Regions from separate parts of the Homo sapiens genome. Here all the other regions are linked to region 1. Evidence: fine-mapped QTL for protein levels in blood plasma. A gene starts in region 1. Each other region holds a variant in brackets. All regions are shown on one strand. Distances are from middle to middle. Region 1 holds the start of BST1 (bone marrow stromal cell antigen 1). Region 2 has its middle 38 kb from the start of BST1. Region 3 overlaps BST1 (bone marrow stromal cell antigen 1).

What was found. PIP is the posterior inclusion probability: the model's chance that the variant is causal. Sun 2018 read protein levels with aptamers (SomaScan).
Region 2: its variant is fine-mapped to the plasma level of the BST1 protein (Sun 2018, PIP 0.95).
Region 3: its variant is fine-mapped to the plasma level of the BST1 protein (Sun 2018, PIP 0.95).

Annotation. Positions count from the first base shown.
Region 1 is chr4:15,698,867-15,708,821 of GRCh38, forward strand. BST1 (bone marrow stromal cell antigen 1) reads left to right here and starts at 4,199. Exons shown (of 9, transcript NM_004334.3): 1 at 4,199-4,466; 2 at 6,649-6,775; 3 at 8,645-8,780. The coding sequence starts at 4,279. RefSeq lists a silencer at 4,138-4,217.
Region 2 is chr4:15,735,593-15,745,547 of GRCh38, forward strand. It overlaps a transcript of BST1 not described here and the pseudogene PFDN1P2. Among named protein-coding and RNA genes, the nearest start is that of BST1, 38 kb to the left of the region's middle. The variant T/G (reference allele first, on the strand shown) is at 2,175.
Region 3 is chr4:15,724,027-15,733,981 of GRCh38, forward strand. It overlaps BST1 (bone marrow stromal cell antigen 1), which reads left to right. Exons shown (of 9, transcript NM_004334.3): 9 at 7,714-8,761. The coding sequence ends at 7,819. It also overlaps the pseudogene RPL10AP7. Among named protein-coding and RNA genes, the nearest start is that of BST1, 26 kb to the left of the region's middle. The variant CT/C (reference allele first, on the strand shown) is at 6,888.

The DNA of each region.
Region 1 (9,955 bases):
TAACAAGGAAATCATTCCTATATGAGTAACAGGAATTTCAGAAAGAGAAAACAGAATTTGGAGGAGGGGAAATTACCAAAAAATTGAGAAAATATCTCAGTATTTAAAGACATGAGTTTGTAGGTTAAAAGGGCTCATGGATTGTCCAGTACAATGAAAAACAACTACTTTTGCCCAACTTCATCTCTGAAATTTCATACTCCTAAGAATAGAAGGAAATTCTGAAAATTTCCAGATAGAAAAAAAACAGGCCAAAGAATAAAAAACAAAACAAACAACAACAAAAAAGGTCAAATAAACAGGAATAGGAAAATGGGTTCAGATTTCTCAACAGCAACACAGAAAACAATGGAACACAGTCTTCAAAATTTTGAAGGGAAATGCTTTCCAATGCAAAAATGTACCCAACCAAATTCTCAATCAAGTGTGAGGTTAGAATAATGACACTTTGAATTCTTATGCAAAAATCTCAGACATCCAATCAAATTCTCAATTAAGTGTGAAGGTAGAATAATGACATTTTGAATTCTTATGCAAAAAATCTCAGAAAGTTTAGTCCCTGTGTATCTTCTCAAGAAGCTATTGGAAGATGTGCTCCATAAAACAAGAAAGAGGAGGATGTGAGATCTAGTTGTATTAGTTCGTTTTCATGCTGCTCATAAAGACACACCTGAAACTGGGAACAGAAAGAGGGTTAATTGGACTTACAGTTCTGCATGGCTGGGGAGGCCTCAGAATCATGGCATGAGGTGAAAGGCACTTCTTACATGGCAGCGGCAAGAGAAAAATGAGGAAGAAGCAAAAGTGGAAACACCTGATAAACCCATCAGATCTTGTGAGACTTATTCACTATCACCAGAATACCAGAATAGCATGGGAAAGACCGGCCCCCATGATTCAATTACTCCCACCCTGCCTCCCCACCCCCACCCCAACCTAGCTCTCTCCCACAACACGTGGGAATTCTGGGAGATACAATTCAAGTTGAGATTTGGGTGGGGACACAGCCAAACCATATCATTCCACCCCGGCCCCTCCAAATCTCACATCCTCACATTTCAAAACCAATCATGCCTTCTCAACAGACCCTCAAAGTCTTAACTTCAACATTAGCCCAAAAGTCCACAGTTCAAAGTTTCATCTGAGACAAGGCAAATGCCTTCTGCCTATGAGCCTGTAATATCAAAAGCAAGCTAGTTACTTTCTAGATAATGATTACCTCCAGGGTAAACAAGAGGTTTACAACAAATAAAATGTCATAATGTCCCAAACAGAATAATGTCCCAAACAGAAACATCAAGAAATAGCATATAGGTATTGTATTAGTCTGTTCTTGCATTGCTATAGATACCTGAAACTGCTCATTTATAAGAAAAAGAGGTTGAATTGGCTCACAGTTCTGCAGGCTGTAGGAAGCATAGTGGCTTCTGCATCTGGAGAGGCTTCAGGAAGTTTCCAAATGTGGTGGAAGGCAAAGGGGGAGCAATGGGTCTTACACGGTGGCAGCAGGGAGCAAGAGAGAGGGAGGAGGTGCTACACACTTCTTTTTTTTTTTTTTTTGAGACAGAGTCTCACTCTGTCACCAGGCTGGAGTGCAGTGGTGAGATCTCAGCTCACTGCAACCTCCGCCTCCCAGGTTCAAGCGATTCTTCTGCCTCAGCCTCCCGAAGAGCTGGGACTACAGGTGCGTGCCACCACGCCCAGCTAATTTTTGTATTTTTAGTATAGATGGGGTTTCACCATGTTGGCCAGGATGGTCTCGATCCGTGATTCCCAACACACCCCCCACACCAGCCTCCCAAACTGCTGTGATTACAGGTGTGAGCCACGGCGCCCTGCCAGTGCTACACAGTTTAAAACAACCAGATCTCACTTACTATCATGAGAATAGCAACAAGGGGATGGTGCTAGACTATTCTTGAGAAACCCACACCCATGATAAAATCACCTCCCACCAGGCCCCACCTCCAACGTTGGGGATTACAATTTCACATTAGATTTGGTGGGACGAGCCATGCCAGGGATGCCCCAAAATTACTAAACTAAAGGGAAAAGTCAGGCTGGGAACTGCTCAGGGCAAACTTGCCTCCCATTCTATTCAAAGTCATTCAGCTGCTCACTGAGATATATGCATATTCTGATGGCCTTCTTTGGAAAGGCTTATCAGAAACTCAAAAGAAGGCAACCATTTGTCTCTCACCTACCTGAGACCTGGAAGCCCCCTCCGTGCTTCGAGTTGTCCCCGCCTCTCTGGACAGAACCAATGTACTTCTTACATATATTGATTGATATCTCATGTCTCCCTAAAATGTATAAAACCAAGCTGTGCCCTGACCACCTTGGGTACATGTCGTCAGGACTTCCTGAGGTTGTGTCATGGACACGTGTCCTCAACCTTGCTAAAATAAACTTTCTAAATTAATTGAGACCTGTCTCAAAATTTGCGGGTTCACACATGTTATTTAGAAATATGGAAGTAAACACAGGAACAAAACTTGAAAGAATTAAAAATGCTTTCCTCTGGAAAGTGGATTTAACTTAAGGAGGAACTGAACAGGAGAATGCGGGTTTTGGTTACAGAAAAAAAGAGATTCAAATAAAACAGTAGAGAACACCTGTTCTGTCCTCCCTTGTGTTTATCAAGTGCTTGCCAGGCACTCAAAGTTCATTGCTGTCATTATTGTAAGAATTGAGGACTTGGGCCTCCACGTGGTATTCTATTAATACTGGCTCTTTTTTTTTTTTTTTTTGAGACGGAGTCTCACTCTGTTGCCCAGACTGGAGTGCAGTGGCCCGATCTCGGCTCACTGCGAGCTCTGCCTCCTGGGTTCACGCCGTTTTCCCGCCTCAGCCTCCCGAGTAGCTGGGACAACAGGCGCCCGCCACCGCGCCTGGCTAATCTTTTGTATTTTTAGTAGAGACGGGGTTTCACCGTGTTAGCAAGGATGGTCTCGATCTCTTGACCTCGTGATCCACCCGCCTCGGCCTCCCAAAGTGCTGGGATTACAGGTGTGAGCCACCGCGCCCGGCCAATCCTGGCTCTCTTAAACTGAACATCTCCAGGATTTTGCATCTATCAGGAAGGGATATTGTGACCTCTGACAAGTTACAGTCGGCGGTAGGTATCCATGGAGAATTGGTTCCAGGAACCTCCTGGATACCAAAATCCACAGATGCTCAAGGCCCTTATATTAAATGGTGTAGTATACAGTATTTGCACATCCTCTTCTATAATTCACGTCATCTCCAGATTCCTTGTAATATCAAGTACTATGTAATTGTTACATAAGTAGTTGTTACATTGGATTATTTAGGGAATGATGACAAGGAAAAAAAAGTCCGTACATGTTCCGTACAGATGCAAGCATTCTTTTTTTCCTCAAATGTTTCTCATCCGTGGTTAGCTGAATTTGGATGATGAATCCGCAAATCTGGAGGGCCGAACATGCTTAACTTCCCTGAGTTTATCCATTGCTAAAGCGAGAGAAATTACAAACTTAGCTAGGAAGGGTGTTGCGGAAAGTAATTAATATTATACTTGCAAAGTGCTTGGCACGTTGTTGTGGTTATTATTTCCTGAAAACAAACAAACACCACTTATTGGTTGGTGTGAAAGAGGGCATCTGTCAAAGTTGTCGTCCTTTGGAGCCAGAAAAGTATTTCTTCTGATGATGACTGACCTCTCCTCACCTCTCCTTCAACCTTGCGGCTTCTTTGGGGCTCCCTCCCCGTGGACAGCGGTCAAGATTAGCCTGGGCCACAGTGCACTGGTCCTGTCCTGGGTGATGTTCCAAGCTCACTCTTTTTTAATTTTATTTATTTATTAATTTTTTTTTTAGACAGAGTCTCACTCTGTCGCCCAGGGCTGGAGTGCAGTGGTGCAATCACTGCTCGCTGCAGCCTCGATCCCCTGGGGTCAAGCCTCCTCACATCTCACCTCGCAGGTAGCTGAGACTACAGATGCGCACCACCAGGACCAGCTAAGTTTTGTATTTTTTTGTAGAGAGGAGGTTTCTCACCTGTATGTTACTCAGGTTTGTCTCGAACTCCTATACTCAAGCGATCCGCCCGTCTAGGCCTCTCAAAGTGCTGGGATTACAGGCATGAGCCGCCGCGCCCCGCCCCACGCTCAGTCTTGAAATTGTCTGGAACGGGAAACGGCAAACAGCGAGATATCCGAGCGAGAGTCCCGCCCTGCATCAGTTTGCGGAACCGCCTTGGTAGAAGGAGAGAAGGGGAGTGGAGGAAGCACGGGACTGGAGGGACCAAAGTTCCCCGATGGCGGCCCAGGGGTGCGCGGCATCGCGGCTGCTCCAGCTGCTGCTGCAGCTTCTGCTTCTACTGTTGCTGCTGGCGGCGGGCGGGGCGCGCGCGCGGTGGCGCGGGGAGGGCACCAGCGCACACTTGCGGGACATCTTCCTGGGCCGCTGCGCCGAGTACCGCGCACTGCTGAGTCCCGAGCAGCGGTGAGGCAGTCGGCCGGGTGGAAGGGGAGCCGGAAAGAGGCAACGGTGGGGAGGGCCTGGGGAGGGGAAAACTGGCGCTAAAGTTCGGGGTGAGGGGGCAATGAGAGAGGCCTTGAGGGGAGAGGTGAGTGTGGAGACAGCGATGGTCCTGAACGATGGGGGCGAGTGAGGAGGGGGCTGTGAAGTGTGTCTGCAGGTGAGGGGTGCGCTGTGCGGGGTCTAGAGATGAGTGTGTGTGTGTGCGCGCACACACACACTGTAGAGGTGAGGGGTGTGTGCGTGTGTTCTAGAGGTGAGGGGGGTGTGTGTGTGCGCGCGCTCTAGAGGTGGGAGGTGTGTGTGTGCTCTAGAGGTGGATGTGTGTGTGTGTGCTCTAGAGGTGGGGGTGTGTGTGTGTGTGTGTGCTCTAGAGGTGAGGGGTGTGTGTGTGTGTTCTAAAGGTGAGATGTGTGTGTGTGTTCTAGAGGTAAGGGGTGTGTGTGTTCCAGAGGTGAGGTGTCTGTATGTGTGTTCTAGAGGTGAGGGGTGTGTGCATGTGTGTTCTAGAGGTGAAGGGGGTGTGTGTGCGTGCGCTCTAGAGGTGAGGGGTGTGTGTATTCTAGAGGTGAGGGGTGTGTGTGTTCTAGAAGTGAGGGGTGTGTGTGTTCTGGAGGTGAGATGTGTGTGTGTGTGTTCTAGAGGTGAGGGGTGCGTGCATGTGTTCTAGAGGTGTGTGTGTATCTGTGTTCTAGAGGTGAGGGGTGTGTGTGTGTAGTCTAGAGGTGACAGGTGTGTGTGTGTGGTCTATAGGTGAGGGATGTGTGTGTGGTCTAGAGGTGAGGGATGTGTGTGTGGTCTAGAGGTGAGGGGTGTGTGTGTTCTAGAGGTGAGGGGGTGTATGTGTATTCTAGAGCTGAGGAGAGTGTGTGTTCTAGAGATGAGGTGTGTATGTGTGTTCTAGAGGTGAGGGGTGTGTGTGTGTTCTGGAGTTGAGGGGTGTGTGTTCTAGAGGTGAGATGTGTGTGTTCTAGAGATGATGGGTGTGTGTGTTCTAGAAGTGAGAGGTGTGTGTGTTCTAGAGGTAAGGGATGTGTGTGTGTGTGTGTTCTAGAGGTGAGTTGTGTGTGTGTTCTAGAGGTGAGATGTGTGTGTGTTTGTTCTAGAGGTGAGGGGTGTGTGTGTGTAGTCTAGAGGTGACAGGTGTGTGTGTGTGGTCTATAGGTGAGGGATGTGTGTGTGGTCTAGAGGTGAGGGATGTGTGTGTGGTCTAGAGGTGAGAGGTGTGTGTGAGTGTGAAGGAGGGTGGAGAGGTATCCCTCTAGAAGTGAGGGTGGGGTAGAGGTGAACTGGGTAACAGCCCATTGCCACCCAGCAGATGTTTAGTCTGAATACTCAGAACCCAGAATGTGATCTCAGGTTGGAATTCCTTGAGTCCAGTCCTTCCAGAATTCAAATTTCAGATCCCCTAAATCTGGAGGATTTCTGAAGTTTGGGTCTTTCTTGCCAGTGCTGCATTTCTTACTGATTTTTGTTCCTTCTGTGGCCCCCCTTTTCTTATGTTTGTGATGTCTTTCTTGTGCTGATCATTTTTATTGTCGCACATTTCAGGCAAATAAGAAACAGCAGAGAACCACCTGTGTTACACACCACCCAGTATGAGAAACAAAGTTACAAATGCTATGGGAAATATTTTTTGAAAACTAGCATGGACCTCAAGAGGGGCTTGCACTGGAGGGTGCACCTGCTTTGCCAGAGGTGGAAGCCTTTTGCAGCATTGGGCCTCCCTCCTAACACTACACATCCTGCTGGCTGGCCTGGCCTCACCTGGTCCCCGAGCTCCACACTGGAACTGGACTATGAGACTGGCCCCACCGTTAGGTCTAAATGAAGAGGCACCTGCTGTATAGTTGACTGAATTTGTCACCTCCTGCTCGGTGCCATTTCTGCTTGTCTCCGTGAGCCTGGGGCAAGGCTGTATTCCTTAGCTCTGAGAAATCTGTGCAGTGCCTTCAGAGAGACAATTCCAGTGTCAGATTTCTGAATCTGTCACCTAAGCCATGACAATTCGTTGTCTTTTTTGTAAGCCTACTTCTGCAGTTACTATATGAAAAATCTCTTGTAAAGCTCTTAGACAAATGGGCATACTTCACAACACATTATGATGTGCATGTGTGTGTTCTTCCCAACTTGTACTTTTGCACAGGAACAAGAACTGCACAGCCATCTGGGAAGCCTTTAAAGTGGCGCTGGACAAGGATCCCTGCTCCGTGCTGCCCTCAGACTATGACCTTTTTATTAACTTGTCCAGGCACTCTATTCCCAGAGATAAGGTAACACCACAACCATCTTGGGTAAAACTGTGTTCTCTGTCTCTACAGAAATGGATGGTGCATGGGCCAGGTTGACATTAGCTGTCCCCTGCATCCTGCAATGTCACAGAAACATCAGGCAGCACACATAATGTGTGTGCTGAGCTCTCTGTGGGAAGCTAGCTTTGTTTCTGTATTAGTCCGTTGTCACATTGCTATAAAGAAATGCCTGAGACTGGGTAATTTACAAAGAAAAGAGGTTTAACTGGTTCACAGTTCCACAGGCTGTACAGGAAGAATGGCAACATCTACTTCTGGGAGGCCTCTGGGAGCTTTTACTTCAGCAGAAGGCAAAGTGGGAGCAGGTGTCTTACATGGCACGAGCAGGACCAAGGGCAGAGGGAGGTGCCACAGGCTTGTAAACAACTGGATCTTCTGAGAACTCCCTCAGGAGAACAGCAGCAAAGGGGGAAATCCACCCCCATAATCCAATCACCTCACACCAGGCCCCACCTCCAACATAGGGGATTACAATTTTACAAGAGACACAAATCCAAATCATATCAGTTTCCAATAGTGATTGTAGATCTCCCGCTGGTTGTGGGCAGAAGAAAATTTCCTAAGTTAGCAAGTTAGTGTGAGAATCAACATGAGGACATCAGGACATGGCCATACCTGTCACACTGGGCCTCCACATCTGGCCAGTTCTAAATAACCTTCATCCTAACTGGCCCAATGGCCTGAACCTTGAGTAATTCAGAAAACTCTCAATCTCAGTATCCTCCCGGGAGACCAGTCTCTCCATTTAACGGGTCTTAAGATTATATTTATTTAGTACCAGTTTATTTAAGAAAACCACATATCTATATTCTGTATACACTCTCAGGTCTAATAAAATGAAAATAATGAGAAAATTTCCATAAAACCCTTGCTTAAAACAATACCTCAAGTTTAAGGAATGCTAGACACCATTTTTGTTTCTGTGACATAAACATTGTTAACCTGATTTTTTCCATTGTGTGTTATTTGTAAAGGCAAGTAAATGGAACTGTGAGGTTCAAAGATAGAATAGACTGAAAACATGATTTTTGAGTATATGCTGTCTTTTGAACCTTGCTGCCCTCCTGTCACTAAAAGTGGGGAAGCTGACTTTTTAACCTTCTGTTTCATAGATTCGGTGCTAGTTGATGAACTCAGTAAATACTTCCGGGGCTATTTGTTTGCCAGTCATTGGTGCTAAGGGTTAAGGATGTAACAGTGAAAAACAGCCCTCACCCTTGGGGACCTTCTAGTCTAAATATAAACTGATTGGACTACTGAGGGTCAGATGAAATAGTGACTGGGGGATTTGTGTTATTGTTATATAAAAACACTATGGTGGAAACTATAAAGTATAATATAAAAGCAATGTGTTTTTGAGGCACTTGACACTTTAGGAAGTGCTTTTTGTGACTGCTTATTATCCTGGCCACAGCTCTGGAAGAAGAGAAAGGGCTCATGCTCTGCATTTTCCAGAAGTAGAAACTGAGAAACAGGGAGATTGCATGCCTTGCTCAAGATTACATATCTAATACATGACAGAGCCAGGATTCCAGCCCAGTTCCCTTGATCATTTTTAATGTAGGGGATCTTACCACATGCACGTATATTTAGTACTAGTGAGAAAATATTCCATTAACATTTGCATGATACCCTGGGAATAAAGGGAGGAGAGATGCTAGCAGTCTTTGAATGAATAAATAAAGACAACGAAAAAGAACGTTCAGTTGTTGTGCAGCAGGTCAGAGTTGAATGAGAACTGGATTGCCCAACTTGCCTTGATGATATTGTGCCTGAGGAGTCGGTTTTGATTCTGTTTTGTATTTTGATGTTTTGTTTGTCTTTCCTTAGTCCCTGTTCTGGGAAAATAGCCACCTCCTTGTTAACAGCTTTGCAGACAACACCCGTCGTTTTATGCCCCTGAGCGATGTTCTGTATGGCAGGGTTGCAGATTTCTTGAGCTGGTGTCGACAGAAAAATGACTCTGGTAAGACTCCTGCACAAATCACAGGAGACTTAAGAACTCCTATTTACTATGCATTACCATTTGTGCTAAATGCTTTCATATGCATTTATTTCACTTGATCCTCTCCAAGTCCTCTGAGATAAGTGGCAAGAATAGTTAATAATAACAATACTAGAGAATACTTAACTTTGCAGGTGCCAGTCTAAGCACTCTCTCTCTCTCTCTCTCTCTATATATATATATATATATACACATATATATACACATATATATACATATCTATACATATCTATATCTATATATACACACATACTCATTTGATGCCCACAACAACCTCATGGGATCCTATCATAATCCCCATTTTGATAAATGAGGAAACTGAGGCACAGCAAGATTAAGAAATCTGCTCAGGGGGCATAGCTAGTAAGCAGCAGACAGTCTGACTCCAGAGCCCATTTTCTCAACTTTGCACAACTCTGCCTTACTATCCTCATTTGTCCAGAGGGGGAAGCTGAGGCTTAGGGAGGTTAAATGACTGGAAGTGGTAAGGCTGGGTCTCAGTCCTGTCCTGATGGATTCTGAAGCCTGTGCTCTGTAACACCACTCCAGGCCGCCGGCAGATATTTCGAGATCCAAGTCACAAGGAAAGTTAGAGTCACAAGAGCTGGCCTGAATGTTCTGCAAACACTCCTCATTCATCCAACTGTGGTGCTAGGAGCTGGAGACACAGCAGTCCCCATCTTCAGGGAGGTTATAGCCTCATGGGGGATATCAGCTCGAGTGATATGGGCTATAATGCAGGAAAAATGGTGTTCGAGGAGTAGCAGAGTGAGACACCAGCCTCCACCAGATCATCAGGGAAGCTTCAGAAGGGAGGCTAGCAAGGAAAGGAGGTTAGGGAGTGTTTCCATTATGAAGACTGGAGATCCTTCCTGGGTATCAGAGTTACTTCAAAAGTTAACCTAATATCAGGCCGGGCATGGTAGCTCACGCTTGTAATCCTAGCACTTTGGGAGGCCGAGGTGGGTGGATCATTTGAGGTCACGAGTTCGAGATTAGCCTGGCCAACATGAAGAAATCCAAACTCTACTAAAAATACAAAAAAATTAGCCAGGTATGGTGGTGCATGCCTGTAATCACAGCTACTCGGGAGGCTGAGGCAGGAGAATCCCTCGAACCCTGGAGAAGGAGGTTGC
Region 2 (9,955 bases), 37 kb after region 1:
AGCATAAGACTTTTGGGTACTTAGAGAAAGAGAAAAGGACCCAACCAACCAACTTCCAATTCATAATTCATGGTTTGTCTCAGGACCGTCTGGCTCCTTAGGCCAATCCCATGGGAGCCCCAGCCAAGGGGCGTCTCTTAGACCAAGCTTGGAAAACACAGTGTCTGCTGCCTTCATGTTGCCTGGGTTACCAGGCGACTTAGCCACTCACAGCACAGTGACCTGCGACTCAATTAGAGAAATGCCATTTTGAGTTCCATAAGAAAAATAAGGCTTTATTTTTAAAAACTAAACATAACTTCACTTTTTTCCCGAATATAAGAGTAATAATGGCTCTTTACTTGAAAAAAATCTACACAATACAGAAAAATTAGGAAGAAGGCAAATCTCATCTGTCATACTGCACGCAGAGTAGCAGACATTTTTCTATGTGTTTTTATGCACATATTTATATTTATAGACCCAAGAGGCTATGTGGGACATTAGGAGTGCGACCCAGAGCAGAACCATACAACCGCCGGTTCTAGCCTTTGTACAAGGTAAATCATGGGTTTCAAACATATCATTGCCTCCTGACTGATCTCTCTGCTTCTGCTTGGTTTCTCCTTCAGCCTAACTTCCACAATGCTGCCAGAGCAATGTCCTACGCTAGGGTCCTGAGTGCATCGTCCTCTTGCTCAAAATCAGCAATGGTTTCCTACCCTTGGCAAGACAAATTTCAAATTTTAAAATCTGCTCTTCAAGAAGCCGGGCGCAGTGGCTCCTGCCTATAATTCCAGCACTTTGTGAGGCCAAGGTGGGCAGATCACTTGAGGTCAGGAGCCCTGGACAACATGGTGAAACCCTGTATGTACTAAAAATACAAAAATTAGCTGGGCGTGGTGGCACGTGCCTGTAATCCCAGGTACTCTGAAGGTTGAGGCAGGAGAACTGCTTGAACCAAGGACACAGAGGTTGCAGTGAGCCTAGATTGCTCCACTGCACTCCAGCCTGGGTGATAGAGTGAGACTCTGTCTCCAAAAAAAAAAAAAAATCTGCGATTCAAGATCTTTCCATTTGCCCCTAAACTGCCTTACTAGGTCTGTGTCCCAGGAGACCCCACTGCACTCTCCATGAACCTTCTCTCAGTTCCGTATTCTCAACATAAGCCTTTGGATCTGGTACCTTTGCTCACCTCCTCCTCGAAGCCTTACTTAGTTCCAGATCCATTTGTTTTTATGTCTCTCTCTCTTGAGGACAGCAACTTTACCTCTTTGTCTTTGTGTCTGTCATAATGCTTTACCCTGACCAGCCATGACCTAGTCAGCATTTGATCAGATTGGGTGAGAACCTTGGGTTTGGGGAATCAAGACAAAGGAAATGGGGAGGCAGCCTAACATTGTGGCCAAGAGCATGGACTCTGGCACCTAACAGGTTGGCCCACATCCTACCTTCAGCACTTGCTCGCTGTGTAGCCTTGGGCAACTCACTTACCTTACCTGAGCTGCATCACCGTGTGTGTAAGTAGGGATTATAAGTACTCATAATTCAATGAGCGAATGTGCATAAAGAACCCAGAACAGTGCCAGGAGTATAGTAGATCAGCCCTGTATAAGTGTTATTTGCTAGTGTTATTGTTACTACTACTAGAGTTGTTTGATAGCTGTCTAAACACCATCTGCAATACAGCACTCTCTGCAGATCAGAAGTTACTGTGCACTGGGCACTGTGTGAAGTATTTTCATAAATGGCCCCTTTCAATCCTCACTCGACCCCATAGGATCAATTCTCTTATTATCCTATTTTACAGATGAGAAAACATAGACATAGAAAGCTTTTCTTACTTGGCCAAGGTCACCTCTCTTGGCCTCGGTTCCTCCATGGTCTGGGCAGCAAGGGGGCAGCAGGGAGCCCTGGCAAAAGCAGCTAAGAAAACCAGCCTCGTGTGTCTTCAACAAACAGGTCCCAGCACCAGCTCCATGCCTGGCACACTTAATGGGTACTTAATGCTCTTCTACCAAGTGAATGAACAATGCTAAGCATTTGACCAAAAGAGAAATGCACATGGAAGACCCCTGAGCACAAGGACTGGGTGGGCACATGAAGAACTGAGTTCTCTTTCCTCTCCTGTCGTAGGTACCAGGTACCTTACACTTGGCTGTATTCCCTCTAGCACGATAGACTTGGTAACAAGG[T/G]ACTTTCTGAACCTGAACAGGAAACTGTGGGAACCATGATGGGGAAGATACTGACTGTCAGAGAGTCCAAAGATGTAAATGCCTTCCACTCCCACAGCAAGGAAGCCGAAATCTCCAGAGGCTCTGGCAAGAGTTGAGTCAATTGCATGCCTGCCTAGTCCAGCTCCGTCCACATGAATGCTCTCCACAAGCTTCAGAGGAAACAGGATAAAATGGACTCCCAAATATTTAGGGTGGTGAAAATACTCTGCATGATACTAGAATTGTGGATACAGGTGATTATATATGTGTCCAAACCTACAGAAGGTACAACACCAAGGGTGAACCCTCAGGTAAACTACAGAGGCTGGGTGACCATGATGTTTCAATGTCGGTTCATTAGTTGTGACAAATGCACCACTCCACCACTCTGGTGGGGATGCTGCCAGTGGGGGAGGCTATGTATGTGTGGGGACAGAGCGTATGTGGGAAGCTCTGTACTTTCTGCTCAAATTTGCTGTGAACCTAAAACTGCTCTAAACATTAAAGCCTATTCAAAAAAATGAAAGCCTAATTTGAAAAGGAATTTCAGACACTTGGGAAAAAGAATAATGACGTCTATAAGTCATTCTTTGATAAGAGAGTCGGTCAGTCTGGTGTGTCTAGTAAGGTAGCAGAGGGACATTCACAAAGACCGGAGAATACAAAGATGTTAAACAGGGTGAGGAGTCTATGATGTTGGTCAGTATAAAAGGAGAAAAAGATCCTAAAAACATTCCTAAATATTGTTTGATTTAAAAATATATGTTGGAAGGCAAGAGAGTTTGATAAAAAAATAAAAATAAAAATAAAAAACCTTGATGGGAAGTGGGAATGACCACACGTTAGCCAGCTGATAGCTTACCTGTTTGAAGTTCAGCTTCCACACGATTGTTACAGACGGAACTGTGTTCCCTCAAATTCATAGTTCGTTATGGCCACCCTGGTAAGCTAACACAACAATGAAAATTTCCAAAGTAAAGACTAGAAGCAGGCATGTGCCAAGTGAACACTAGCTTTTTTTATTTCTCCTGCTGTGAAAATTGAGGTTTGCCAAAGGTGCCAAATGAACATGGCTGATTGAGAAGTAATCCCAGTTCCACTAACCTGAGAGACAGCCCAGGCAAGCGGACCTAGCTCCTAATGCTCATTTCCATTTCAGTCTTTCTGAAGTTTCCCAGGGTGAGAAAGTGGAACTCAGGACAATGAATCATCATTGGAGACTCTGCAGTTGCTAGAACTTAATTCACAGGCATTTGAAACCCAGAACTCAGCCTTACTCTTCTCAGGAGACTTTTGGCACCAAAGAGAAGGGCAAATTGAAAGCCCATGCTGGAGAACAGGGCACAGCTATTGCTGAGACTGGGAGCTTGTTTTTAAAGACCTGGCAAGGGTTTCAAACACCCACATGCATAACCAATGAAGCAGGTTGGAAAATCTGAACTATGCTAATTTCACCATAATTACTCATTACTTGAAGTCTTATGTATTTGTGTTTTCTTGGTAGTCTCTTTAAAACATGTTTCAATATGAAACGTATATGTATTAAATCACTCCGCTTAGAATTTTAGGAATATAGTTTTGTTTTTCCCCCTAAAAGATGTAGAATGCAGCAGGTTCTCTAAAGCACATGTATTCTTTGTTACGTGATTTGGTTCTTTGGAACTTCTTTTATCATGTAGCTATTAAAGGGTAGCTGTCAGAATTACCCAAACTCTTCACTGAAATGACTTACTTATTTGAGAAAAATGCATGTTAAGAAGCCAAACCGTGTGTGTGTGTGTGTGTGTGTGTGTGTGTGTGTGTGTGTATTTCTCCCCTGCACAAAAGTAGAAGGGTTTTCATTTGACTTGTGCCAGCTGCACCTTCATGACTTTGCTATAGGACATGTGACACAGTAACTCTAAGATGGTGCTTGTAAAATTTTAAAATAGTTAACATACAGTGACAAGCTCTCAGGGGAACACATTAAACTCGATTAAATTTTGTAGGGTAAAAAGATGTGTACAGAAATATAATCAGAGTGAAGTCATTGTTCACCATTGCTGCTAGTAATAAAATTTGGTGGTAGGAGGGGGAAGGAGAAAGGGAGGGAGGGAAGTCGGTGAGAGAGAGAAAAGGAGAGGGAGACATTGACAGAGAGAGAGACAGACAGACAGAGAAACAGAGAGAGACAGAGAAAGAGAGGGAAGAAGGGAGAGAGAGAGAGATAAGGATAGAGAGAGACAGGGAGAGAGTGTATCTCCTGATCCTCACTGGCTGATAACTAAATTAGTTGGGGGCAGGGGGGACTGAATCTCGTTCTGTCACCGAGGCTGGAGTGCAGTGGCACCGTCTCGTCTCACTGCAACGTCTGCCTCCCAGGTTCAAGTGATTCTCATGCCTCGGCCTCCCTAGCAGCTGGGACTACAGGCACACGCCACTATGCCTGGCTAATTTTTTGTATTCTTTTTGCTAGAGACGGGGTTTTGCCATGTTGACCAGGCTGGTCTCAAACTTCTAACCACAGTGATCTGCCCGCCTTGGGTTCCCAAAGTGCTAGGATTATAGGCATGAGCCACCATGTCGGGCCTAAATTAGTAGTTATTATCTACTTTCATTTGTGGGATGAAGATGAAACAGAGTCCTTTGGGATTGTGCACTGGGGGAAACCTAACATAGTCTAGTATCGGGAGAGGAGGCTTTCCAGAGAAAGTCTTCCTTAAGTTGAACCTGAAAAAACGAGAGCTATTAGCCAGATGAGAGGTGAAGGTGTGAGGGGGTGGATTGGAAATATTTTCAGGTAGGGAGACTAATCTATACAAAGGTTTATGTTCTCAACTACTGAGTTTGTCTTCAGCATTTGCACCTTATTTAACAAATTTATTAATTTGTTAAATTATAACAAATATTTGACAGCAGAGCTGAGGATATTAAAATAAAATGTAATTTTATTTCTTATATGTTGGTGAAGAAGGAGCAGCAACAGAGGCTGGAGCATTATTTACAAGCCAAACTATCCGTCTGGAGATTCCCAGTGCAGCAACTGGGACGGGGACTACTGAATCCCTCAGATTTTAGGCCATAGGCCAATGAACATTTTCTGTAAAAGGTGAAGTAATACTTTTAGCTTTGCTGGCCATGCAACCTCTGTCGCAACTACTCAACTCCGTGGTTCGTGAGGGGTCCACAGGGTTCATTATCCGTCATGAACCGCAGAGTTGAGTAGTTGTGACAGAGGTTGCATATATTTACTCAGCCAATATTTACTGATGATATTGATTAGGAGTCTTGGGAAGAGCAGTGACAGTTTTTTTGGTATTATATCTAGCGACAAAAGATTGAATTTGGCCGTTACTCACTCCTCCTCCAACAAAGTTGTCAAACGGGGCTGCTACAGACAAGTAGAATCACAGATTGGAGATCAGCTGTCATTATGTAACAGCTGGATTGGCAGGCTTCCCTCTAGGGGCCATCCCTGTCTACAGCTAGAGTGGACAGGCCAGGGAGGACACCATACTTGGAGTAGAGTAACCTTGTCCAGGAGTAAAACATGGCCCGAGAATTCTGTGCTCCTAGCAATCCTATTATTATAGAAGTGCTTCCTGATAAGGGAGGAAGGGTAGGAAGAGGAAAGCTGAGGCAGATGGATGGGGAAAGTACTGAAACATTCTGTTCACATCCTCAATAACCTTCATGAAAAATCAGTCATAGATGCTGGAATCTCCAAACCTCCAAGGGGCTTACAACATTGTGTGCAGGGAAACCTCTAATTCACAGCCTTATTGAGAGCATGTGTCAATGGCCCATAGCAGGGGCCCATTCTGGCTTTTGTACAACCCCAAAGACACACGTGGGTTTTCCATTTTTAAATGGTTGAAAAAAATCAAAAGAAGAACATTATTTCATGGCGTCTGAAAACTACATGAAGCTCAAATTTTAGTGTATAAAGTTTTACTGGAACTCAGCCATGCTCATTAGTTTGTGCTTATCTATTCCGCTTCTGAGCTATTGCAGAGTTGAGCAGTGGCAACAGAGGTTGCATGGCCCGCAAAGCGAAAAGTATTATCTCACCTTTTACAGTAAATGTTCATTGGCTTATGGCCTAAAGTCTGAGGGATTCAGTAGTCCCTGTCCCAGTTGCTGCTCTGGGAATCTCCAGATGCATAATATGGTTGGTGCATAACGCCCCGGTCTCTGTTGCTGCTGCCTCCTTCACCAACATACAGTACAAACAAATAAAACTCCATTTTATTTTAACATGCTCAGCTCTGCTGCCAAAGCTGTGACAAGCCCAGAAGCAGTTTTTCAGGGTTTGAGATGGAGAAGAAGGTGGTCTCTTCTCTTGCTCATCAAGGAATCCTCTTTATTATTTAAGCCAGATTAAGTTTGCTATGGTTTGAATGTTTGTCCCTCCAAACTTCATGCTGAGATTTGATCCTCAATGTGGCAATGTTCAGAGGTGGGGTCTACTGGGAGGTGTTTGGGTCATGGGGGTCAACCCCTCATGAATTAATTACTGTGCTCCCTTGGGGATGGGTGTGTGAGTTCTCACTGTCTTAGTTCCCTTGAGAGCTGGCTGTTAAAAAGAGCCTGGCACCTGTCTCCCTCCCTCCTTGGCTTCCCCTACTGCCATGTGATCTCTTTGCATACTTTGGCTCCCCTTCCACTTCCACCATGAGTCGAAGCAGCCTGAGGCCCTCACCAGATACAGATGCCTAATCTTGAACTTTCCAGCCACCAGAATTTTAAGCCAAATAAACCTCTTTTCTTTATAAACTGCTCAGGCTCAGGTATTCTGTTACAGCAACACTAAATAGACAAAGACAAAGTTGTTGACTGACTTTGAATTTCTTTAGAAGCAGACCTGTGACAGAGGATAAGTCCAGGGAGTTCATTTGGGAGGTAATAAACTACCTGAAGGTACAGGAAACACTGATGAAGAAGTGGGAATTGAGTTAGGGATGGCAGGAAGCCAATACAGTGTTATCAGGCTGTTATCACTGAAGGAAACTGGGGTTGAAGCCTGCTGGGGAACTAAGGCATACAGTGCAGAATGCACCTCGAACTGATTGTATCTGAGACAGAAGGAGGTTGAGATATTTATCTACTTGTCAGTCATGGGTTCAGGACTGCTCCCAGGAGGACATTGGGCCTGCCCTGAGATGGCAACTGGCACCAGCTGCAGCAGAGATGGGATGGAAAGAAAACAAATTAATATGAAGTTTCAGATGAGCCACTTATTTACAAGGAGGACAGTTTTGAAATTAATTTTTCCTTATACTTTAAGGTACAGTGAAAGGATGCATAAACAGACCTTTTTGAAGTATGTGAAAATCATGAACCCACTTTCAGTTTGTTGCACCAACTTCCACAAATTACAATGTCAGAGGAAACATCAAAATTCCCTTGCATAATTTTACATTTAAAATAAAATTCAGACACCAAGATGGTAACCCCCATGGATCTTCACAGAGCTTCAAGACAAAGTTTTTGACACTCAACAGAAGGTGAAGCTTACAGACATACCGACCAAACAGCTAAACAGAACAAAAAAGCATGCACATCTTACAGATGCAGAGATCATGACTTCGGTGGATGAGACTAATCTGTATGAAGCTGTAGGATATATGTATGAAGATGAAGAATGTTTATTCTTCAATCCAAGGAGGCAGTTCACAATAAACTGTTAGAAAGTCAGAAAATAGCAGAAGAAAAAAAAATTAAAGAACTAAAACAGAAAAAAATCCTACCTAGAGCAGAATGTTAAGGAAGCTGAGGGCAACATCTGGGAGATGCTGATGGCACAAAGGGCCCAGCTGGGAGCCTCTGCGGGAAGCTCTTCCTCCTGCCCCTCCTATTTCTGGCAAGGGCAGAGTGGTCTGTGCAGGGAAACAGTCTGTCTTCTGCCCTAATGGATGTTTTATCTGGATGGCCTAGCAATCTCACATGTTGAGCCCCTCTTGTATCCCAACTCTGAGATTTTTACCCTGGCTTTGCCTCCCCTGCTCAGGACACTCTTTTCTGTTGGTGTGAGTCATGAGCTCCCAGGAAAGGGAAGATGGGAGCCAGGACTGATAGGAGGCTCTGTCTGAGCCTTCCATTAGGGACGCTGGTCAGACCAGTAAACAGCATCTGTCCCACTCTGCTACATCTGCCTTTCTTGAGCCAAGGGATGGGAATGGAGGGTGAGAGAGGCAGTGGCTATCTCCATCACAGCTCCTGCTCCCTCTGCATTAGAGTCTTTCTTTCCTTGGGGGATGGGATCTTGTCCTCTTATCTTTTCCTTTTCTGGACATTTGACTAATCCCTTCACCTTCTGGGCCTCTGTGTAGTATACAGATGAGGAAGAAAGAAGACTTACACCGAAAGCTGAATTTAAGTGAAAAGAATAGTGGTTCCTTTATGGCAGTCTGCCTACAGATTCCTTTCCCTGCTTTCTCCCATACCTTCTGTATTAGTCCATTGGCACACTGCTATAAAGAGCAGCTCGAGACTGGGTAATTTTTAAAGGAAAGAGGTTTAATTGACTCAGGGTCCCACGTGGTTGGGGAGGCCTCAGGAAACTTACAAATCACGGTGGAAGGCAAAGGGGAAGCAAGGCACCTTCTTCACAAGGTGGCAGGAAAGGGAATGACACAGGAGGAACTACCAAACACTTATAAAACCATCAGATCTTGTGAGAACTCACTCACCATCAGGAGAACAGCATGGGGGAAACCGCCCCCATAATCCAATCACCTCCACCTGGTGTCTCTTCCTTGACACATGGGATTATGGGGATTACAATTTAAGATGAGATTTTGGGTGGAGACACAGACAAACCATATCACATTCCAAAAGAAAGTTCAACAATAAGCAGCACTTCCAAGACTTTCTCCCTTTGGCCAATATCATAAGATGGACACTGTAATCGTGAGGCTTAGGGGCAGAGGAGTGCTGGAGCTGGCCTATACCCACTCAGGAGGGCTGATTGTTCAATTTTCATGAATTTTGTTGCAAGCCACTTGTTAAAAACAGCCATTACAAAAATTATCTAAATTTGAAAATCGTGTTAGAAACAAGGATAATGAATGTTCAAAGCTCAAATAAAAATTCAGACTTATACAGAACTGATATGAAGAGTTAAATTTTTTGGAAAATGTTTTCTGTAAGTCATCACTTCTAGACATGCTAAAATTTATATAATGAAATATTTTTTCAGATTTATTCCAATGCTATAAAACATGTTTAGCATTTCAGTAACAGTTTTATTAGCAGAAAATTCTTCCAAAATTTAAAATTATTAAAATTATCTGCAACTTTGCAGGTAATAAAAGTGTTTTATATCACATTCAATTATATTGATCAATAAAGAAGTTGCAAAAAGCATAAATTCTGATACCTAATACATTTATGGAAGAATGAATTAGAGAAATCTCATAATAAATCAAGGTGTCACATTAAGAAAGTATTACTGTTTACTGTATCATATAAAATTACATATTATACATTGAATTACATACAAATATAAAATTATGACACCAATATTTTCTTGCAATTTGTAGGTTTATGTTGTAATTCATGATAACTATTACTCTGATTACATTTTGTCAGTAATATAATATTTTTAAAGGAAAATGTATTGTTTCAGTATATTTAACTTAGCTGTACTTTTTTTCTGCTTTTTGAACAAAGTGTTTCACGTTTTCATTTTGCATTGCCCCCAAAATTATGTAGTTGGCCCTGCCTTTAAAATCATGGTTTCTTCCAGGTAATATGACTGAAATGTCAAGATCCAGGCT
Region 3 (9,955 bases), 25 kb after region 1:
TCCTGACAATCCAACTCAAGTGTTCTTTGCTCTGTGAGGCTTTCCTCATTCTCCACGTTGATTGAGGAACTCCCTTCTCTTTGCTTCCAAGGACTTTGTACACAACCTGATGACAGTGCTTTACTCTTCCTAGCCCTGCTATCGTTCATTCTGTACCATCTGCCTGCCTCACTCTGCCTTCCTCTTTGTGTTTCTCTTAGTATTTTTCATTACAGTTGCACATAGTAGGTGCACCATCTATGCCTGTAGGATCCGTTCTTCCATCTACAAGGGAAGAGAACTAATCAGAGTGCACAGTAACTATATGCTAGGCATTTGCTGTGTGCACTACATAAAATAGTATGTTTATCTGAATAACCAGTACATTAAAGAGAGTCAGGCTGGGTGTGGTGGCTCATGCCTGTAATCCCAGCACTTTGGGAGGCTGAGGCGGGTGGATCACCTGAGGTCAGGAGTTCAAGACCTGCCTGACCAACATGGTGAAACCCCATCTCTACTAAATACAAAACATTAGCCAGGAGTGGTGGTGCGTGCCTGTAACCCCAGCTACTTGGGAGGCTGAGGCAGGAGAATCACTTGAACCCAGTAGGCAGAGGTTGCAGTGAGCCGAGATTGCACCAGTGCACTCCAGCCCAGTCAACAAGTGTGAAACTCCATCTCAAAAAATAAAATAAAATAAGAGAGAGAGAGAGAGAGAGAAAGAGAGCACATGCACTGGTGAGCTGGCTTGTCATCCCCATATAGTTCTTATTCTCTTTTTCATTTAGTAATAGAACCCTTGAATTTTAGATGGTTCATGGCTATCAAGAATAATGATCCTAGCCTCTCTACCCACTGTGGCCAAGTGACATGTGCAATTTCTGGGTTTAGCACTTGAAAGGAAGGGACTTACATTCCCTTTCTCCTTTTATGCTGGCTGGTATATGGGCCCACAAGATGTGGAGGTGAGCGTCTTCAACTGGGCGTGGCAGAGTAACACAGCAAAAGGAAGCCGGGTGCCTCTGTACCATGGCATCACTCTACCAGCCCTGAAGAGTTACTGAGAGAGAAATAAACATCTGTCTTCTCTAAGCCACTGTCATTTAGACAGAAGCCAGATTTTATTTGATCCAATGTGGGTAGGTTCATATTCTCCCTTCAGAAGCAAAGAAACTCTGGCTCAGAGAAGTTTATGAAGGACTCACCCAAGACCACCCAGCTAGTGCAGGCAGAACCAGGATCTGAAGGAGTCTGAGAACTGTCAAAATTCACTCTGGCAGATGTCTTGCTCTTTGGGCTGGAAATTAGGACAACAGACCCATCATCTCCAGCATGTATTCTAGGAGCCAACATCCCAGGGTTCGGTGATGGATTTAAGTCCTCTCCTCATTCTTTAATGCTATTCGTTCCCTGTGAATTTGGCATGCATCGTTTCTGAGTCCTTTCACAGGAGGTAAAGGATAGCCTGTGAACCTGGGTCTTTCCTTTCCTCACCTGAAAATGAAGTCCACCCTCATGTCGCTGCTGCTCAAAAACCTTCAAAGTTACCTACTACCAAGTTCAGACTTCTAGTCCCATCTTCCAGGTTCATCATACTCTTTCCAGACACGTCACCCACAGCTTCTCATCTGGAATGTTTATTTCAAGGCTAGTTTTGATCCACTTCCCATAAGATATCATATGCTTTCCTGCTCATCAGCCTGTGGAAACACCGTTTTGGCAGTAGTAAGCACTCTGTTCTTACTGAGTTAGTCAGATGATCTGAAATTGTCAGTTTTCTTATCTACAAAGCCTCCATGAGGTTACCCTGATCCCTGATCTCAATATTTAAAATCATAGCCTCCATCTCACAACTGTGGCTCTTCAAAACCCTCATGTGACTGCATTTTTTTTCTTTTTTATAGTGTTTATCTTCTGACTGACCTACTTGTGAAGTGCGGTCTTTTTTTTTTTTTTTTTTTTTTTTTGAGACGAGGTCTCTCTCCTCTCTCTGTCACCCAGGCTGTAGTGCAGTGGCACAATCACGGCTCACTGCAGGTTTGACCTCCTGGGCTCACGTGATCCTCCCACCTCAGCCTCCCAAACAGCTGGGGATACAGGCACTTACCACTACGCCAGCTAACTTTTAAAGTTTTTTTTTTTTTTTTTTTGTAGAGATGAGGTCTCACTATATTGCCCATGCTGGCAAATTCATTCTTTAGCGCCTCCCACCTGTCAGAACATGAGCTCCAGGAGGTCAGGGACTTTGACCTGTTTTTTTCACTGATGATGGTATTCTAAGGACCTAAAACAGAACTTGCAACTCGGTAGACACTTAGGAATGAATGAATGGATGAATAGATGAATGAACGAATGAATGGTTGGATTCTACCCTGGAAAGGCATAGATTTAAGAAGAACGATGTTCAAAGGTGCTGGGCAGCCAGAAGGAATGACAAATGCTCTACAACACCTTCAGAGAAGTGCCCAGAGGCTGCATATGCATAAGGTCTACATTTTGATTGCAAGAAAAAGAATCCTTGTGTGGCTCACTTATGTGGAAAAGGGGGAATAAAGTTGTTGCAAAGATTAGTGGTATAGACTTTCTAAGGAGCCTGGAACCTCATAAGTCTTGGATAGGGAAGTGTCTGTGGTGTTAGAATTACTTAGGTTTGTATGGTTTTACTCTTTGTCTCATTAATCAGACTGTCAACCTATACAGAAACAGACCATGTAAAATTCCTTGTTGTAAAACCCACTGCACCCTACACCACCATTCCTGAAATGGGCAAATGGTGCCATCCTAGCACCAGTGCCTTGGGTTAGCTCCCCTGCTGCAGGAAGAATAAGGAGAACGAGGGTAGCTCTTCTCACTTTTCCTCGGTATTTTTTTTTTTTTTTTTTTGAGATGGAGTCTCGCTCTGTTGCCCAGGCTGGAGTGCAGTGGCGTGATCTCGGCTCACTGCACCCTCCGCCTCCCGGGTTCAAGCAATTCCCCTGCTTCAGCCTCCCGAGTTTTCCTCAGTATTTCTGAGCACTTTGCAGTGTCAGGCTTCCAGCTGGCACTCTGGAGTCATCATCTCATTTTACTCCAACCACATTCCTAGAAGGAAGACAGTTTGATTGTCATCAATGATGCTGAGGTTCAGAAGGATTAAGTGATCATTTAATGTTACTCAGAGGCCGAAGCAAAACGGAGATTTGTCTGTGTGTAAAGTTCTCATTCTTCCTACCACACCACACTGCCTTAAAATGTCTCTGGGTCTCACACCACAGCAGGTAAGTAAGGGGTTTGCAGTTCCTGACCTGTTCTTCCCTGTGTGTGGGCATTCTTTCAGTGACTGTTGGTAGACATTTTTGACAATTCTGGCTGATTCCTTTGAATGTCAAGGATAAAACTCTCTTTCACTCTGCCAAGTTTTTCACCAACTTTCATCACCCTGGCAGGAATTTTTCTAATCTATTTTTTAAACATTCTAGCTGTGAATAGTCATAGATAATTTACAAAAGAGAAACCACAAATAGCAAATATACAAAATTATTTAATCACTCTAATAATAATGGAAAACAAATTCAACAAGGTGTCATTTTCACCTAAACTTTCTTGGCATACATTAAAACATAGCAGAAAAATGTTTTAGAGATGTTATTCAATGCTTGATGTCACTGTAAATTGATAAAGTGCTTTGGGAAAACAATTTGACAATATGTGTCAAGAATTAGAAAAATATCACAGTCTTTGACCTAGGTCACACTTTAGGGTACTTTTGGTGCCCTATTCCAAACAAGTGATTTGAAATGCACATACAGCCTATATGCTCAAATATGTTCTCCAGAGCATTCTTTATAATACTGAAATACTGGGAACTGGACTCAAATATCCACTGACAAGTAAACAGTTACATCAAAGGGTACACTTACTGGAGGGAGTAGAATATAGCCCTTAAAGACAATGGTAGGATAATCATACAGCAAGCAGAAGACCCCATGAATAATCCAAGGGGAAAAAACCAACCTTAGCGCTTATAGGTTATAATATTGGCCAAAAATTCAGTAGACTTTTAATCTGCAGGATTGGTGATGATATGAGAAAACAGACATATAGTACTGGAATGAGGACTCAGTGTGGCACTAAGGGCCAAAGGCAAACATCAGATCTTTTAACTTAGCTGGAAGGCTCTATCCTAAATGCCCCAGGCCACAGAGACAGGACTACTCATCTCTACTTGTTTAGGAATAGTGGGGTAAAGGGCTTTTAATCTGCAAAGGTTTCAAATGAAATAAACAACTGTTGATGTAAATCCACCCATTTTATTAATAGTTTTGTGGTAAATTTAGGGACAATCTGTATGTTTTGGTATTTAATTATTGGCAATATTTTAGAGAATGTAGCATATAAGAACAGCTGTTGGATTAAACCTGTGATGCCAGTATATGGGTTACTATTAAGTAACTAATTCTTTTTCTTTTTTTTTTTTTTTTTTTGGAGACAGGTTATCGCTCTGTCACCCAGGCATGGAGTGCAGTGGTGTGATCATGGCATATTGTAACCTCAACCTCCTGGGTTCAAGTGATCCTCCTGCCTCATCCTTTCAAGTGGCTGAGACTACAGGAGCAAGCCAGCACTACTGGAAAATTTTCTTTTCCCTTCCTTCCTTCCTTTTTTTTTTTTTTTTTTTGATGGAGTCTTGCTCTGTCACCCAGGCTAGAGTTCAGTGGCTTGATCTTGGCTCATCACTGCAGCCTCCACCTCCTGGGCTCAAGTGATTCTCCTGCCTCAGCCTGCCAAGTAGCTGGGCCCACAGGTGTGAGCTACCACGCCTGGCTGATTTTTGTATTTTTAGTGGAGATGAAGTTTTACCATGTTGGCCAGGCTGGTCTCAAACTCCTGACTTCAGGTGATCCTTCTGCCTTGGCCTCCCAAAGTGCTGGGATTATAGGTGTGAACCACCATGCTCAGCCAAGTAACTGATTTTAGGCTTGGGATTTTTAGTAGGAAGTTATAAGAGAATTTTACTAAGTTTTGAACCAGTATTGGAATTTGTAAAAGAATTAAGATTAAATTTTATACATTTATTAGGTTTACTACAATCAAGTAATTGAGAAAGTTTTGCTAATTTAAAGTCATTTAAAATATTTTTTAAAAAAGATGTAATATTTTAATATTTAAGTTGAAAATAACCTGAAGCCTTGCCCAGTGGCTCATGCCTGTAACCGTAGCACTTTGGGAGTTCAGTGCGGGAGGATCACTTGAACCCAGGCATTCAAGACCAGCCTAGGCAACATGGCGAGACCCCGCCTCTACAAGCAAACAAACAAAAAATTGGCTGGGTATGTTGGTGTGCACCTATGGTCCCAGCTACTCAGGAGTCTGAGGCAGGAGGATTCTCTAAACCCGGGAAGGTCAATGCTTCAACGAGCTGTAGTCATGCCACTGCACTCCAGCCTGGGTGACAGAATGAGACCCTGTCTCAAAGAATAATAATAATAATAATAACTTAACCTGAAATAACTTGAGTTTAAAACATCACAGGAATTAAGTAAGTGTGACAAATCCTTAAGAGTTATTGTCAGAGTTCACCAGGTTTTTAAATAGAACAATGTGATTTATAAATTAAATAAAAGGGCATGGGAAAATTAGGCTTTTGAGTATATAAATGTAATAACAAGAATCAATTTTAAAAATCAAAGTAACTGCAAATAGTGCAGTTACCCCCTCAAGTATAGTCTCACATTGACAAGAAAAGGTTTTTAAGCTACAAAGTGAGAAACCAATGCACAGAACATGAACCGAGACATGTAAACCAGAAGAAAGCAAAACAGCATGTTTCTATTTGTGCATGATAATGGATGTAAGTGATAGAAATAGGTCTGAGAAAGTAAACTCCAAGCACCTAACTGTGGGTTCCTTCTAGGCAAAGGAATAGAAACTGGAAAAAGATGAAGGGAGGCTGTCATTATTAGTGTATCTAATTATGTGTTATTTTATTTTTTAAAAAAGTAAAGAAAAATGTAACCTTATGTTAATTAGTTAATTATTTGAAAGCAAAAGTAATTTTAAATTTTGAGTGAATCGAGTCTGGGACATTAACTGCATCACAGGTGCAATTGTAGAAAATGTCCGGTAGGTGGAGCACTAATACAAACCTGTGGGTCAGATTTCTTTAGCAAAAAAGAGAGGACCAGCATTCAAATGGAGTCAGGAACTTTTAAGGACAGGGCCACTAGTCCAGAGCCATGGGATATATTTCCAAGCCAACATTAGATGGTTTCATAATTTTAAAATTCATCTTTTAGTTGGTTTAAAAGAATTCAGTAATTTCTGTTTTTACAAACCCAGTGGCCAGATACTGTTTACTATGAATAGGGTCCATATTTTGGGCAGGCCCTCTGTTGATGTCTTCATGTCAGGACAGGTTTTTCTTCACCACTTAAACTCTGATCATGTAATAGCCATCAGTAGGAAACCTGGCTAACACTGTGTTCCATCCGTACAATAAGAATTCATCCACAAGGAAGAATGAGTTAACTCCCTGTGTACCAATATGGAAGCATGTTCAAAATATGATGTTAGGTGAAGAACGCACGTTGCAGATTCCATTTGTGCTTAGATAAAAGGATATCTAAAGACATCTAAGGATAATTTGCAGGGCAGCAGCAGGTCCTGTTGTCTAGAGAAGCTTTTTGCTCAGGAAAGAATGTCTTGAGATGGTATTTCAATGACGTGTGTGCTCAGGATTGCAGAAATAGGAATTAGTTATATTGAGCAGGTTCAGCATGCATGTGTTCATTGCATTCCTGGAAAGAGAACTCAAACTATCAAAGTTGGTTTTCTATGGAAAGTGCAAATGGGGAGACTAAGAGACTTTTACTTTCCACTTTATAACTTCCTATATACTATGTACATTTCTCCACAGTGTGCACAATTTG[CT/C]TTTTTTTTTTTTATACTGGTAGCAGTAGAATTTATTCAAATGTGCCTTAATATAGGCACTGGGGCTTGCCTATGGTGCTCTCGATATATAAGGCCCGGACATTCTGCCAGTTTTTCTGCCAGTTTTTCTTGAGCAATGTCACCAAGAAGTTGACAGGCAGGTGACTGTTACACACAAGCTCATTGTCTGTCCTTTTCACGTGGCCAACAGCCACAGCCAGACATAACACCTTCTTCATGTGGAAATTGATTACGGACTTCATCTCATCCACTTTGGCCACCATGTTTTCCTTGTGTGTGAGCAGGGAGGGGCAATTTCCTGCCTTATTTAGGACTGGGCCGAGGATTCGTGGGATCTGCTTGATCAGAGACTCTGAGGCCAAAAATGCATCATACTCTTGGCCAGTTTCTTGACCAGTTTCTTATTCTTGTTGAGTTTTTTCAGTACCTCGTTTTCCATGTGGTGGAAATCCACAGGCTTGGCCTTGTCACGGTGCTGCTGGTTACCCAGGACACACATGGAGAACTTGGGGCAGGGAGTGGACTTAAGCCTGACGGTGCCCGAGAAGCGCTTGTCCTTCTGGGGAGTCATAGTTCTTGAAGCTGATCTGCAACTCCACCATCTCCAGAAACTTGGGGTGCTTGCGCTGGTTTCGGTGCAGGACTTCGCGCACCGCCTCCTACGGGGTGTCACGGGAGACTTTGCTGCTCATGGCTTCTCGCTCCGCGCTAACCAGAAAAGAGACTAATACTGCACATATATTTTTGAGCGTAGATTCCATACACCAATACTGACACTTTCTCTATTTCCTTGTTAATTTGCAGGGCAGCAGCCGCTACTCAAAGAAAAGCCCCAAGTCTTTATACAGAACAAAGGGCGGGTCTTATCATTCCCCTCTTTCTGGTGCTGGCTTCCAGGACTCAACTGTAACTGGAAACTGTGTTGCTCTAACCCTCCTCCAGCCCTGCAGCCTCCCCTTGCAGTCATCATTCGTGTTCTGTGTATACCAAATGATTCTGTTATCTAAAGAAGCTTTTTGCTGGGAAAACGATGTCCTGAAAATGGTATTTCAATGAGGCATATGTTCAGGATTTCAGAAACAAGAAGTTAGTTCTATTTAGCAGGTTAAAAAATGCTGCATTAGAATTAAAGCAAGTTATTTTCTTATTTGTATAATGACACAAAGCATTGGGAGTCAGACTGCTTGTATATTATCAAACATTTTAAGAGAATTCTAATAAAGCTGTATTTTACATCATCTATATTTTCCTATATCTCCAGCAGCACGGACACTGCATGCTTGTTGATTGCTTAAGACATATGTATACTATATAAATGTATGCATATATGGTCTGCAAAGTTTTCATTTTTCATTTATTTGGTATAAAGATGTTCAGTTAATGGTTCCTTTTTGTTTTGAGAGACAGAGTTTCGCTCCTTTGCCCAGGCTGGAGTGAGGTGGGGAGATCTCAGCTCACTGCAACCTCTGCTTCCAGGATTCAAGCGATTCTCCTGCCTCAGCCTCCCAAGTAGCTGGGATTGCAGGTGCCTGCCACCATGTCCAGCTAATTTTTGTATTTTTAGTAGAGATGGGGTTTCACCATGTTGGCCAGGCTAGTCTCGAATTCCTGACCTCAGGTGATCCACCCACCTCAGCCTCCCAAAGTGCTAGGATTACAGGCGTGAGCCACCACATCCAGCCATAATAGTTACTTATAATGAGGGAAAAACCCAAAATATCCAGTAATATTTACATATTTACTGAAACTGTTTGGAACTTGTATTAGTTTGTTCTTGCATTGCTATAAAGAACTGCCCGAGACTGGGTAATTTACAAAAATAAAAATAAAAAAGAGGTTTAATTGACTCACAGTTCTGTGTCCAGAATTGTGACAAAATTGTGACAACCTCTGGGTTTTTGGTCTTGCTGACTTCAAGAATGAAGCCATGGACTTTTGCAGTGAGTGTTACAGCTCTTAAAGATGGTGTGTTCAGAGTTTGTTCCTTCAGATGTGTCTGGAGTTTCTTCCTTCTGGTGGGTTCGTGGTCTCGCTGACTTCAAGAATGAAGCTGCGGACCTTCGCGGCAAGTGTTACAGCTATTAAAGGTAGTGCGGACCCAAAGAGTGAGCAGCAGCAAGATTTATTGTGAAGAGCGAAAAAACAAAGCTTCCACAATGTGGAAGGGGACCCAAGCTGGTTGCCACTGCTGGCTCGGTGGCCAGCTTTTATTCCCTTATTTGGTCCCACCCACATCCTGCTGATTGGTCCATTTTACAGAGCGCTGATTGGTCCATTTTACAGAGTGCTGATTGATGCATTTACAATCCTTTAGCTAGACACAGAGTGCTGATTGGTGTGTTTACTATCCTTTAGCCGGACACAGAGTGCTGACTGGTGTGTTTTTACAGAGTGCTGACTGGTGCATTTACAATCCTTTAGCTAGACACAGAGTGCTGATTGGTGCGTTTACAATCCTTTAGCTGGACACAGAGTGCTGACTGGTGTGTTTTTACAGAGTGCTGACTGGTGCATTTACAATCCTTTAGCTAGACACAGAGTGCTGATCGGTGCATTTACAATCCTTTAGCTAGACAGAAAAGCTCTCCAAGTCCCCTCTCGACCTAGGAAGTCCAGCTGGCTTCACCTCTCTGTTCCACAGGCTTACAGGAAGCATGGCTGGGGAGGCCTCAGGAAACTTACGATCATCATGGAAGGCAAAAGGGAAGCAGTCATGTCTTACATGGCCAGAGAAGGAGGAAGGGAGTGAAGGGGGAGGTGCTACATGCTTTCAAACCACCAGATCTCGTGAGAACTCTGTCATGAGACAGCACTAGGTGATGGTGCTAAACCATCCGAAACCACCTCCGTGATCCAATCACCTCCCACCAGACCCCACCTTCAACACTGGGGATCACAATTCAATATGAAATTTAGGTGGGGATACAGAGCCAAACCATATCAGAACTATTTACATGGGTTTTAGAATATTTGTAGAATGGAGTATCATTCAACAAGTAAAAGCCATGTTTACCAATTCACATGTCCTTCAGATGGTGAAGGAATA